Regions from separate parts of the Homo sapiens genome. Here all the other regions are linked to region 3. Evidence: fine-mapped expression QTL. A gene starts in region 3. Each other region holds a variant in brackets. All regions are shown on one strand. Distances are between the middles of the regions. Region 1 overlaps ARHGAP19 (Rho GTPase activating protein 19). Region 2 overlaps ARHGAP19-SLIT1 (ARHGAP19-SLIT1 readthrough (NMD candidate)). Region 3 holds the start of ARHGAP19 (Rho GTPase activating protein 19). Region 4 overlaps ARHGAP19 (Rho GTPase activating protein 19).

The links. PIP is the estimated chance that this variant, and not a neighbour inherited with it, causes the effect.
Region 1: its variant is the best candidate, but not a certain one, in a credible set for the expression of ARHGAP19 in monocytes after Pam3CSK4 (Quach 2016, PIP 0.57).
Region 2: its variant is the best candidate, but not a certain one, in a credible set for the expression of ARHGAP19 in visceral fat (GTEx, PIP 0.58).
Region 4: its variant is the best candidate, but not a certain one, in a credible set for the expression of ARHGAP19 in subcutaneous fat (GTEx, PIP 0.51).

The regions. Positions count from the first base shown.
Region 1 is chr10:97,258,571-97,261,252 of GRCh38, forward strand. ARHGAP19 (Rho GTPase activating protein 19) reads right to left here. Exons shown (of 12, transcript NM_032900.6): 5 at 832-1,058. ARHGAP19-SLIT1 (ARHGAP19-SLIT1 readthrough (NMD candidate)) reads right to left here. Exons shown (of 15, transcript NR_037909.1): 5 at 832-1,058. Among named protein-coding and RNA genes, the nearest start is that of ARHGAP19, 33 kb to the right of the region's middle. The variant C/CTGTTTTGTTTTGTTT (reference allele first, on the strand shown) is at 1,258.
Region 2 is chr10:97,211,163-97,213,844 of GRCh38, forward strand. The region is part of intron 11 of ARHGAP19-SLIT1 (ARHGAP19-SLIT1 readthrough (NMD candidate)); the gene reads right to left. Among named protein-coding and RNA genes, the nearest start is that of SLIT1, 27 kb to the left of the region's middle. The variant C/G (reference allele first, on the strand shown) is at 1,041.
Region 3 is chr10:97,291,543-97,294,224 of GRCh38, forward strand. It overlaps ARHGAP19 (Rho GTPase activating protein 19), which reads right to left and starts at 1,095. Exons shown (of 12, transcript NM_032900.6): 1 at 1,030-1,095. The coding sequence starts at 1,085. ARHGAP19-SLIT1 (ARHGAP19-SLIT1 readthrough (NMD candidate)) reads right to left here and starts at 1,131. Exons shown (of 15, transcript NR_037909.1): 1 at 1,030-1,131. RefSeq lists enhancers at 1-665, 666-1,422 and a silencer at 767-816.
Region 4 is chr10:97,264,751-97,267,432 of GRCh38, forward strand. It overlaps ARHGAP19 (Rho GTPase activating protein 19), which reads right to left. Exons shown (of 12, transcript NM_032900.6): 2 at 1,110-1,375; 3 at 76-156. It overlaps ARHGAP19-SLIT1 (ARHGAP19-SLIT1 readthrough (NMD candidate)), which reads right to left. Exons shown (of 15, transcript NR_037909.1): 2 at 1,110-1,375; 3 at 76-156. Among named protein-coding and RNA genes, the nearest start is that of ARHGAP19, 27 kb to the right of the region's middle. The variant T/C (reference allele first, on the strand shown) is at 1,605.

The sequences.
Region 1 (2,682 bases), 33 kb before region 3:
TGTGTGGCTTCCAACCCACCTATCCTGGCTCACAACTCCATCACATAGTAAAACCATATTATAAGTGGGCAGGAATATGAGCTATGTACCTCCAGGTCAACAAGTTGTTTAAAAGACTTTAGATGAGGCTACAGTGAGTAGTGATTGTGTTACTCTCCTCCAGCGTGGGCAACAAAACGAGACCCTGTCTCAAAAAAACAGAAAAAAAGACTTCAGAGAATTTATTTCTCTGTGTTTTTATCCCTCAGGCATTTAAAAAAAAAAAGAGAGTGAGTTTATTTCTCTTGTAAGTCACTGAGAAGACCATGGTCTCCATAAGAAGAAGCAAGTTCAGCTTTATCCAAGGAGACTACATATCTACAGGAAATACAAAAGTCAGGACAAGGCAGGATTGCTCCAAGTGTCATCTCATCTATAAATCCATAAGCTTGGTGACATTATCCCATAAGATCACACAGCTCTATTCTAATTTTATAACATTTGATCTTCAGAAACTAATTTGATTTCCCAAGAAGCCTTTCCTGTTAAGGATTCCACAATGAACAGCCAAAATGAGTATTCTAGTTTATTCAGTAGTTATAATTTCCCACTAAGAGTTTCTACTAATACAATGCCATGTAGGTTTACCAGAGATTGATTTATAAGTGAGGTTAGCAGGAATTGGCCCTCTCAGGTCTGATGACTCTTCAATGAACTAATAAAGTAAGTTCCCAACCTCATAAAGCTGAAGGCTAGACCTTGGACCCTTGATAATCTCACCAATGTACAGCCATAGAATGAGGCCCAGCCCAAGAAAACCAAGCAATCTTTACTCTTCCCGTCAACACTCACATTTTTTGGCCACAGGACATGGGGTGCAAACATAAGGGCAAGGTTATAGGCTGACATCTTGTTCTTGTCTTGTTTCTTTGCTGTCTGGTATAGGAGATCAAGCAATAACTTCAGCAAATTACGATTAGGAGGAGGGAGAATGAGGAAGAGCAACTGGAGAGCCTCAATTTGCCGGTCCTTGTCTGGTATATTGGTCTTGTTTCCTTTATCATCAAACTGCATCAAATCTTGAGGACAAAAGAGAATTTGCAAAGTGGGGAGAAAATATCAGCAAGAAAAATCAGTGCTATCACCATTATCCTCCCCTCAACTCCCATCAAAGAAAGAGGGAAAAAAGATTCAGGCAGAAACACAATTCAAAGACTACAGCAAAACATAATAACAAAATAATGTCAATGCAATTCAACAATAAAAAGATTAAAAAAC[C/CTGTTTTGTTTTGTTT]TGTTTTGTTTTGTTTTGTTTTTTTTGAGACAAAGTCTTGCTCTGTCACCCAGGCTGGAGTGCAGTTACACAATCTCAGCTCATTGCAACCTCCGCCTCCCGGGTTCAAGCGATTCTCCTGCCTCAGCCTCCCGAGTAGCTGGGACTATAGGCACCCGCCACCACGCCCGGCTAATTTTTTGTATTTTTAGTAGAGGCGGGGTTTCACCGTGTTAGTCAGGATGGTCTCGATCTCCTGACCTTGTGATCCGCCTGCCTCAGCCTCCCAAAGTGCTGGGATTACAGGCGTGAGCCACAACACCCGGCCAAAATTTTTTTTAATGTGTACAGGATTTGAATAGACATTCCTTCAGAAGGTATACAAGTGGCCAAGAAGGCTTTGTATGCTCAGTATCATTAGCCATCAAGAAACTATAAATCAGGCCGGGCACAGTGGCTCACACCTGTAATCCCAGCACTTTGAGAGGCCGAGGCGGGCGGATCACAAGGTCAGGAGATCGAGACCATCCCAGCTAACACAGTGAAACCTGTCTCTACTAAAAATACAAAAAAATTTGCCCAGCATGGTGGTGGGCGCCTGTAGTCCCAGCTACTCAGGAGGCAGAGGCAGGAGTATGGCGTGAACCTGGGAGGCGGAGCTTGCAGTGAGCCGAGATCATGCCCCTGCACTCCAGCCTGGGCGACAGAGCAAGACTCCATCTCAAAAAAAAGAAAAAACAAAACAAAACAAAAAACTATAAATCAAAACCACAATGACATACCACTTCATATCCACTACAATGGCTATAACTACAAACAGATTGACAATAAAAAATGTTGGCAAAGATGCAGAGAAAATTAAACCCTCCTATATTGCTGGTGGGCATATAAAATGATATAACCACTTAGAAAACATTTTGGCAGTTCCTCAAAAAATGAGAGTTATCATTTGACCAAGAAATTCCATTCCTCGGTATATACCCAAGAGAAATAAACACATATCCAAGTCAGGCACAGTGGCACATGCCTGTAACCCCAGCACTTTGGGAGGGCAAGGTGGGCAGATCACTTGAGCCCAGGAGTTCGAGACCAGCCTGGGCAACATGGTGAAACCCCATCTCTATATTTAAAAAAAAAAAAAAAAAAAAAAGATCCACACATGCCTTTGATAATGCTACTCACTCCACTTTTCCCCACTCAGATATTTTACAGCTAAAAGAAAAATGAGAATGAAAAATGAGAATGAATGTCCTTATTCACAAGCTGCTCCTTATAACAGGCAGCTCCCAATAGGGTCAGAATTATTGGTTCTTCCCTAACAGACTAAAAAGGTTATCAATGAAAACAGTCCCCTGGATAATGAGAATTTCAAAGGACACTAATAACCATTTGAGTACAACTCACATAGATGTAAAAATGATTACAGTGTGTTATTTAAGCTGTTTA
Region 2 (2,682 bases), 80 kb before region 3:
GGTTTCCTTTCTGTCAGAGCTAATCAAAATGGCAGAAAAACTAGAGTAGGCAGCCTCCTGGGGGCACTCTCAGAGGGTCTGGATTTATTTCCCTTTTTCCCCTTTGGCACTATGCTGCAGGTGTGTGGCCCAGGCAATCAGCCCTCCTAATTGTGGAGGACCAGCTCCAGCTGCCGCCCTCCTGGGCCCCTGCCCGCCTCGGCGCCCACTGTGTGCACAGCACCAGGCGCCAGCTCGTGAGCTTGCTCTCATCCTGTGGGCCAAGGCCCAATCCCACCTTTCTGCCTGGGGGTCTTCCCAGCCACACCAGCCCCTCCACTTCCCGCAGTGGGCGGCCTCCCTGTATCCACACCCACCACAGGGCACAAACCGCACACCCACTGCCACCTCTGCATCAGTGGTTCTGTGTCATGCTGGACCAACAGTATCAGCATCAGCTGGGAACCAATGAGAAATGCAAGTTCCTGGGCCTCAGACCTGCATCAGAGACTCCAGGGGTAAGGCCCGGCCATGCTTCAGAAAGACTTCTAGGTGACTTGGCTGCCTGGTCAGTTTGAGAACCAGTGCCCTATCAGCCCTCACAGCCGCCGGGCGCGGTGGCTCACGCCTGTAATCCCAGCACTTTGGGAGGCTGAGGTGGGTGAATCACGAGGTCAGGAGATCGAGACCATCCTGGCCAACATGGTGAAACCCCGTCTCTATTAAAAATACAAAAAAATTAGCCGGGCGTGGCGGCGGATGCCTGTAGTCCCAGCTACTCGGGAGGCTGAGGCAGGAGAATGGCGTGAACCCGGGGGGCAGAGTTTGCAGTGAGTCGAGATCGCGCCACTGCACTCCAGCCTGGGCAACAGAGCAAGACTCCGTCTCAAAAAGAAAAACACAAAACAAAACAAAAACACAGCTTCCTTTGCTCTCCCCTCTGCTCCCCTCCCACCCCCTCCGTCAGTGGAGCCCCTATTCGGTTGTGGAGGAACTCCTGTGCCTAAAACTACCCTGTCATCTTCCCCTTCACCATTTCGCCCATGGTAATCTTCACCAAA[C/G]TTTAGCAAACTTTCAGTAATTTTATCACATATGCAGGCCACTTTTCTATTTCTTCCTCAACATTTTAAATTTGATACAAATTCAAATACACACTTTAGGTGGGCACAGTGGCTCATGCCTGTAATCCCAGCATTTTGGGAGAGCAAGGCAAGAGGATTACTTGAAGCCAGGAATATGAGACCAGCCTGGGCAACATACCAAGACCCCATTTCTAAAAAAAAATTTTAAAATTAGCTGTGCACTGTGGTGTGTGCCTGTAATCGCGGCTACTCAGAAGGCTGAGGCAGGAGGATTGCTTGAGCCCAGGAGTTAGGGGCTGCAGTGAGCTATGATGGCACCACTGCACTCTAGCCTGGATGGATGACAGAGACTTTGTCTCTAAAAAACAAAACAAAACAACCCCAAATATACACTTTAGCCTGGTCCTAAAGAATCTAGAAATTCAGACTTAACATATAAGTTATATTTTTCTATCACATATTAAACACTATTAAAGACTGTTCATCACCAGGCATGGTGGCTCACACCTGTAATCCCAGCACTTTGGGAGGCCGAGGCGAGTGGATCACCTGAAGTCAAGAGCTTGAGACCAGCCTGGCCAACATGATGAAACCCCGTCTCTACTAAAAATATAAAAATTAGCAGCTGGGCGCGGTGCCTCACACCTGTAATCCCAGCACTTTGGGAGGCTGAGGTGGGCGGATCACCTGAGGTCAGGAGTTTGAGAACAGCCTGACCAACATGGAGAAACCTGTCTCTACTAAAAATACAAAATTAGCCTGGCGTAGTGGCACATGCCTGTAATCCCAGCTACTCGGGAGCTGAGGCAGGAGAATCGCTTGAACCCAGGAGGCAGAAGTTGCGGTGAGCCAAGATCGTGCCATTGCACTCCAGCCTGGGCAACAAGTTGTGCCTATAATCTCAGCTACTTGGGAGGCTGAGGCATGAGAATCACTTGAACCCAGGAGGCAGAGGTTGCAGTGAGCCAAGATCGTGCCACTGCACTCCAGCCTGGGGGATAGAGCAAGACTCTGTCTTTAAAAAAAAAAAAAAAAAAAAACAAAACACCTGTTTATCCAAAGTACTGTCTAGAAGTCATTTTGGGGAAACGATGCCTGCAGTGTAGCCTGACTCTCTCACAACACACTCTATCCTACCCTTTCCTGTCTACCCCTCAGGGCTTCCATTTCCCTCCTCCTCTCATCTGCAGCCCCGACTCTTGACAGCCCTACCTTCCTGGACCATCCAGCACCTCCCTTCCATCAACCCCCCACCCAAGACTCTGACATCCCTGACGACTCCCTGTGAAACATCACCAGCTAAATAAATACACACGGAATGAATGAACTCTGGGCCCTCAAAACATCCACCTCTGCCCCACAGCGCCCCAAGCCCCCGTCCTTATGTAACTCGTCTCTAAGTAACAGCTCCAGGAAGTGTCCCTGGACCTCCCGTACACATCTTTCCGGGCCTCCGCCCACCCACCCTTCCACCTTACTTTCCCACCCTCACCAAAGGCCTCGTATGTGCCAGGCATTGCACTAGGTAGTGTGGAAACAGAATATAAAGAACAGCTCTGGCCTTCAAGGAACTCAGATTCCCATAAGCCAGAACCAGTCTTCTTATTCCTGCTATTGCTCC
Region 3 (2,682 bases):
CTCGGCTTCCCAAAGTGCTGGGATTACAGGCGTAAGCCACCATGCCCGGCCCCGTATGATATTTTAAATAACACACTCAACCACGCTCATCTGGGCTCAGGAAGAAGCCGAGTCACAAAGTTATTAGTTTCCCAAGATTCTTGGAATCTCTTATTCGGTACAAATGGAACCAAAAGACGCCAAACCGAAGTATTTTACTGAGTTACACTGAGGCAACGTAAATAAACTCAATCTATTGAATTACACCAAAAACAAAATTGTAATCAATTAAGACAACTTAGGTCTCAAGGCTAAGGCAACACCACCTCGAAATTCTCTCCTGAAAACGCTAAATCTCGGTGTGGCTGTTTAGGAAAGAACATCCTGTGGAAATAAAGTCATGATGTCCTGGACTACAGATCCCTCTCCCATCTGCTCCTTAGCTGTTCTACTAGGAAGAAGAAAATCTATTGCGTAGAGTTGTCATTATCGGCTAAACTCAGTGCTAGCTTTAAATGGATTGTCTTATTCAATCTTGACACTTGGAAATAGGCATCCTCACGTCCCTTTGCAGATGAAGAAACTGAAGTCGAGAGAGGTTTAAAAACTGGCCCAAGGACTCAACACTGTTTCTAATTGACACTCAAATCCTTGCTCGGACCTGAACGCACAAAGTGCCTCGGAGAAGATGTGAAGCGCTGTGTGCAACAGTGAGGAATTCGCTAACCAGCCCTGGACTTCCGTTTCCTCGCCATCAAGAGGTGTCTCGGCGCCAAAGCGATCAGCGCTGCCACCCCCAGCTGGACGTCTGCAGCCAGCGCAGCGGGAGGAGCCCCCTCGGGCACCGGCAGGACCGAGCGGGGGGTTTGGCTGGAGTCCAGCGCCCAGGCCCGACCCCCGCGCCTCAGCCCCCGCAGGCGCGACGATGAGAAACGCCGTGGGAGAAAGAAACAAAGCCCGAACCGTGCGCCTCCGTGACCCAAGGCAAAGGCGGCAGGACTACCAGCCCAAGGCCGCGTTTCCCAGGAAACTGGACCAAACTCAGCTCACCTCCGGCCGGATTCGCGGGCTGGCACCTCCCCTTCACTCTGTGCCTCAGTCGCCATCTTCGTCAGCAAACTTCTTTCACCGCCCCACCTTACGTCCCGCCCCCACATATTTGGATTGGCTAATATGTTTTCACCTCTTCCGTGCGATTGGATGACTCGACCGCCCCTCCTCAACCTGAACCGTTTAATATATTATTGGTCTATTCAAATGACTAACCGTCATTGGTCGTTCCCAGCCCTGGCGGAAAAAGAGGGAGGGGCGGGGAAGAAGACCCAGCCCCGAGGCCTGCCGGGAGTTGTAGTTTCTCATTTTGATGAACCCTTCCGATTCCACAGACCTTTAGGTTCAAGTCAGAAATCACCAGCCTATGCTCAAATTTTGTCCTGATATGTAAATCAGGGAATTATAGAACTGTCAACTTTGAAAGTGACTCATCACTTTCTAAAATGCAAGACTCCGTACCCTATATCTCAGCATCACACAATATACCCAGATAACAAACCAACTCATGTACCCCCTAAATTTAAAATAAAAGTTGAAAATAAATAATTTTTTTTTACAATTTTTTTAATTTTTTTTTTCTGTTGAGACAGGGTTTCACCATGTTGCCCAGGCTGGTCTCGAACCCCTGAGCTCAAGCAATCCTCCTATGTCAGCCTCCCAAAGTGCTGGGATTACAGGCATGAGGCACTGCACCCAGCCATAAATTAATTCATTTAATTTAATGTAATTTAATGCAAGACTCGTTCTCTGTCTTGACCCAGAGATAAATCCCTCAAGTGCAGGCAGGGAGTGGCAACCTAGAAGTACTTGCTTTTAAACGTATAGTTCAAAGCCTTCTTTCTTCAGATACTCAGCATAGCCCTAGCCATAGGTCATTTCTTTCTTCCTTTATTTCTTTCTTTTTTTTTTTTTTTTGAGATAAGGTCTCCCTCTGTCTCCCATGCTGGAGCACAGTACAATATTGCAGCATACCAACACACAGGGCAAATTTTTGTACTTTTTGTAGAGATGGGGTTTCACCCTGTTGGCCAGGCTGGAGTCGGTCATTTCTGCTTCAATACATTCACTCCCTTCCAACTTCCCAGAGAACCCACAGAGTTTGCCTTGTGATATGAACCATGGAACCAAAAGCTGCATGACTTTGTCCCAAACTAAACTTTAATCCTCAATGGTAGGAATAACCATAATTATCCTTGTCCTCCCTGCGGCACACACTTCTCCTAGGGATTAACTGAGGCAACATATGTGAGAACATTGTAAATTTTGAGCATTGTTGTTTTTTGTTTTTCCATATTGTTTTCCTATGCTGGACTTTTCTCGGGAATTTCTGTATTGATCCTTCTGATATCCTGCCACCTGGGGCTCTCCCTGCACTCTGCCTCCTTTTTACTAAACTGTACTGCACATGCTTCACTTTCTGAACTGTCTTAGGGCTTTTGCACATGTTGCTTTTTCTGGCTCGTCCATTTTTCCACTTTTTTGGCTTTCAGGTCGAAGCTTAAATGTCACTGGCTCAAAGATCTTCCATGACCCCCATTGTATAAATCAATTCCCTCAGTAAACTTTCACAAAGAACTCTGTACTATTCTTTCACAGTTCATATCACAACTCACAATTACATAGTCATTTGTGTGACTATTTATTTCATGT
Region 4 (2,682 bases), 27 kb before region 3:
TCAAGGCAGTTAGCTCTCAACAGAAAACAGAATTCTTCATTAAACAAAGAATGATAAAATTTCAAGTAGTCTTACTTTTGTGTAGATACTCAATCAGTTGGTATATCTGGGCAATGCCTTCCTCCGTCAGTGGGGACCCAAATATCACTCCTTTTTCTGAAAAACCATATGATATGACAGGGCTATATTTCACACAAATAGTACAAAATCATCATACCTAAAACCACTCAAGCATCCTATTTTACAATTCAGCAAGCATTTTCACATGGTCAGTAAACAAAAACCTTAGAACTGGAAGTGCACCAGAAAACGCGAGCAGGACAACTCTCAATCAGCTCTCTCTAAGTTCAATATTAGACTGTAGGTTCCCTGAAGGGAAAGACCATCTTCTTATTCAAGTAAGAAGCATATATCTAGTAAGTAAGGAGATATCTAGCGTGTTAGTATTTAATTTAACAAACAAACAGAAGGCCAGGCATGGTGGCTCACACCTGTAATCCCAGCGCTTTGGGAGGCTGAGGTGGGAGGACTGCTTGAGGCCAGGAGTTTGAGACCAGCCTGGGCAACATAGTGAGACCCCATCTCTACAAAAAATAGAGAACAGTCAGGCATGGTGTCATGCACCTGTAGTCCCAGCTAGTGGGAGGCTGAAACAGAAGGAGAGTTTGAGCCCAGGAATTCAAGGCTGCAGTGAGCTATGATGACACCACCACACTCCAGCATCGGCAACAAAGTGGGACCCCATCCCTTCAAAAAAAGAAAATTCAAGCATTCTGTTCTATAGTCTCTAGCTATGTAACTTTGGTTTTTAAATATTATTTTCACATATTAATAGGGCATGAAAATCAAGATGCCCCGATGACTACCTAAGTTAATCATGTCTTCTCTCAGGGACTGAAAATATTTGCTTTAGTTTAATTATTTATTTATCTAGACAGTTTTTATAATTTGTATTACTATTACTTAAGGTGTTACTACTTATAAAAACTGAAAAAATGGCCAAAAAATGCTTTAAGTTAATAGCAACTCTTCGGTGAATGTGTAGATGTTGAGAGAGAAGCCCAGGGAGCAGCTGAGGCCTGCCCACCCTTCACAAACACATCTCCTACCCTTTCGCTTGAGAGACATGAGAGACCGGAAGAATCCTGATGCTGGGCCAGCCCCGCCAGGCAACTTAAGGTCCACTTCCCCCATCAGCTGAGCCAACTCAGTTCCAGGTAAATCGATGAGCCTTGTGATATTGCTGACCACCAACTCAGTGAAAATCTCAGGTTTCTCATGTCGGAGTTTCTCCACAAAAAAGTCAGGATTAAAGATAATGGGCTGACCTCGAAGGGAAGAATCATTGCAGATCACAAAACTGCAGATGGCATCACTGAAAAACACAGAAGAAAATCTTTCGGGACATCATTTTTGTATGTTTCTTATGCACTACTCATTGGGTTATTTGGTCCTGACTCCACGCAAAGGCAGAGGTTTCCTTATAGTCAGCTTCCTTTAACTGAGCCAGATGCCCTTGAACACTGTTCCTTATAACCACAAAGCCTCACAGAAGGGAAGGCATTTACAGGTACATAAAACAGTAATTAATTCAGCTTTTCCCA[T/C]GTCCACAAATAGGTTTTACTTTAAAATCCTTCAATTCTGGATGCCTCTGACCCATTCGTCATCATCTAAGTCCAACCTCTGCTCAGACAGGTTCTTCTCTCTAGGGCTCCTGATCTTAGCTGGTTCTCCACTCTTACATTACATTGGGCTATACTCCTGGCAAAGCTCCTTTGAATCTCAGAAATATTTTCTTCCCTGTTCTTTGTTTCCCAATGCCTACTATACCCCTGTATTAGTCCATTTTCATACTGCTGTGAAGAAATACCCAAGACTGGGTAATTTATAAAGAAAAAGAGCTTTAATGGACTCACAGTTCCACATGACTGGGGAGGCCTCACAATCATGGCAGAAGGCGAAAGAGGAACAAAGGCACATCTTACATGGCAGCAGGCAAGAGAGTGTGTGAAGGGTAACTGCCCTTTATAAAACCATCAGATCTCATGAGACTTATTCACGCAGGGAAAAAAACCACCTCATGATTCAATTACCTTCCACCGAGTTCCTCTCATGACATGTGGGGATTATGGGAGCTACAATTCAAAATGAGATTTGGGTGGGGACACAGCCAAACCATATCATTCTGCCCCGGCCCCTCCCAAATCTCATGTCCTCACATTTCAAAACCAATTATGCCTCCCCAACAGTCCCCCAAAGTCTTAACTTATTTCAGCATTAACTCAAAAGTCCACAGTCCAAAGTCTCATCAGGGACAAGGCAAGTCCCTTCTGCCTATAAGCCTGCAAAATCAAAAGCAAGTTAGTTACTTCCTAGGTACAATGTGGGTACAGGCATTGGGTAAATACACCCATTCCAAATGGGAGAAATTGGCCAAAACAAAGGGCTACAGACCCCATGCAAGTCTGAAATCCAACAAGGCAGTAATTAAATCTTACAGCTCTGAAATAATCTCCTTTGACTCCACGTCTCACATCCAGGTCACGATGATGCAAGAGGTGGGTTCTCATGGTCTTGGGCAGCTCTGTCCCTGTGGCTTTGCTGGGTACATCCCCATTCCTGGTTGCTTTCACAGGCTGGCATTGAGTGTTTGCAGCTTTTCCACTGCAGTGCAAGCTGTCA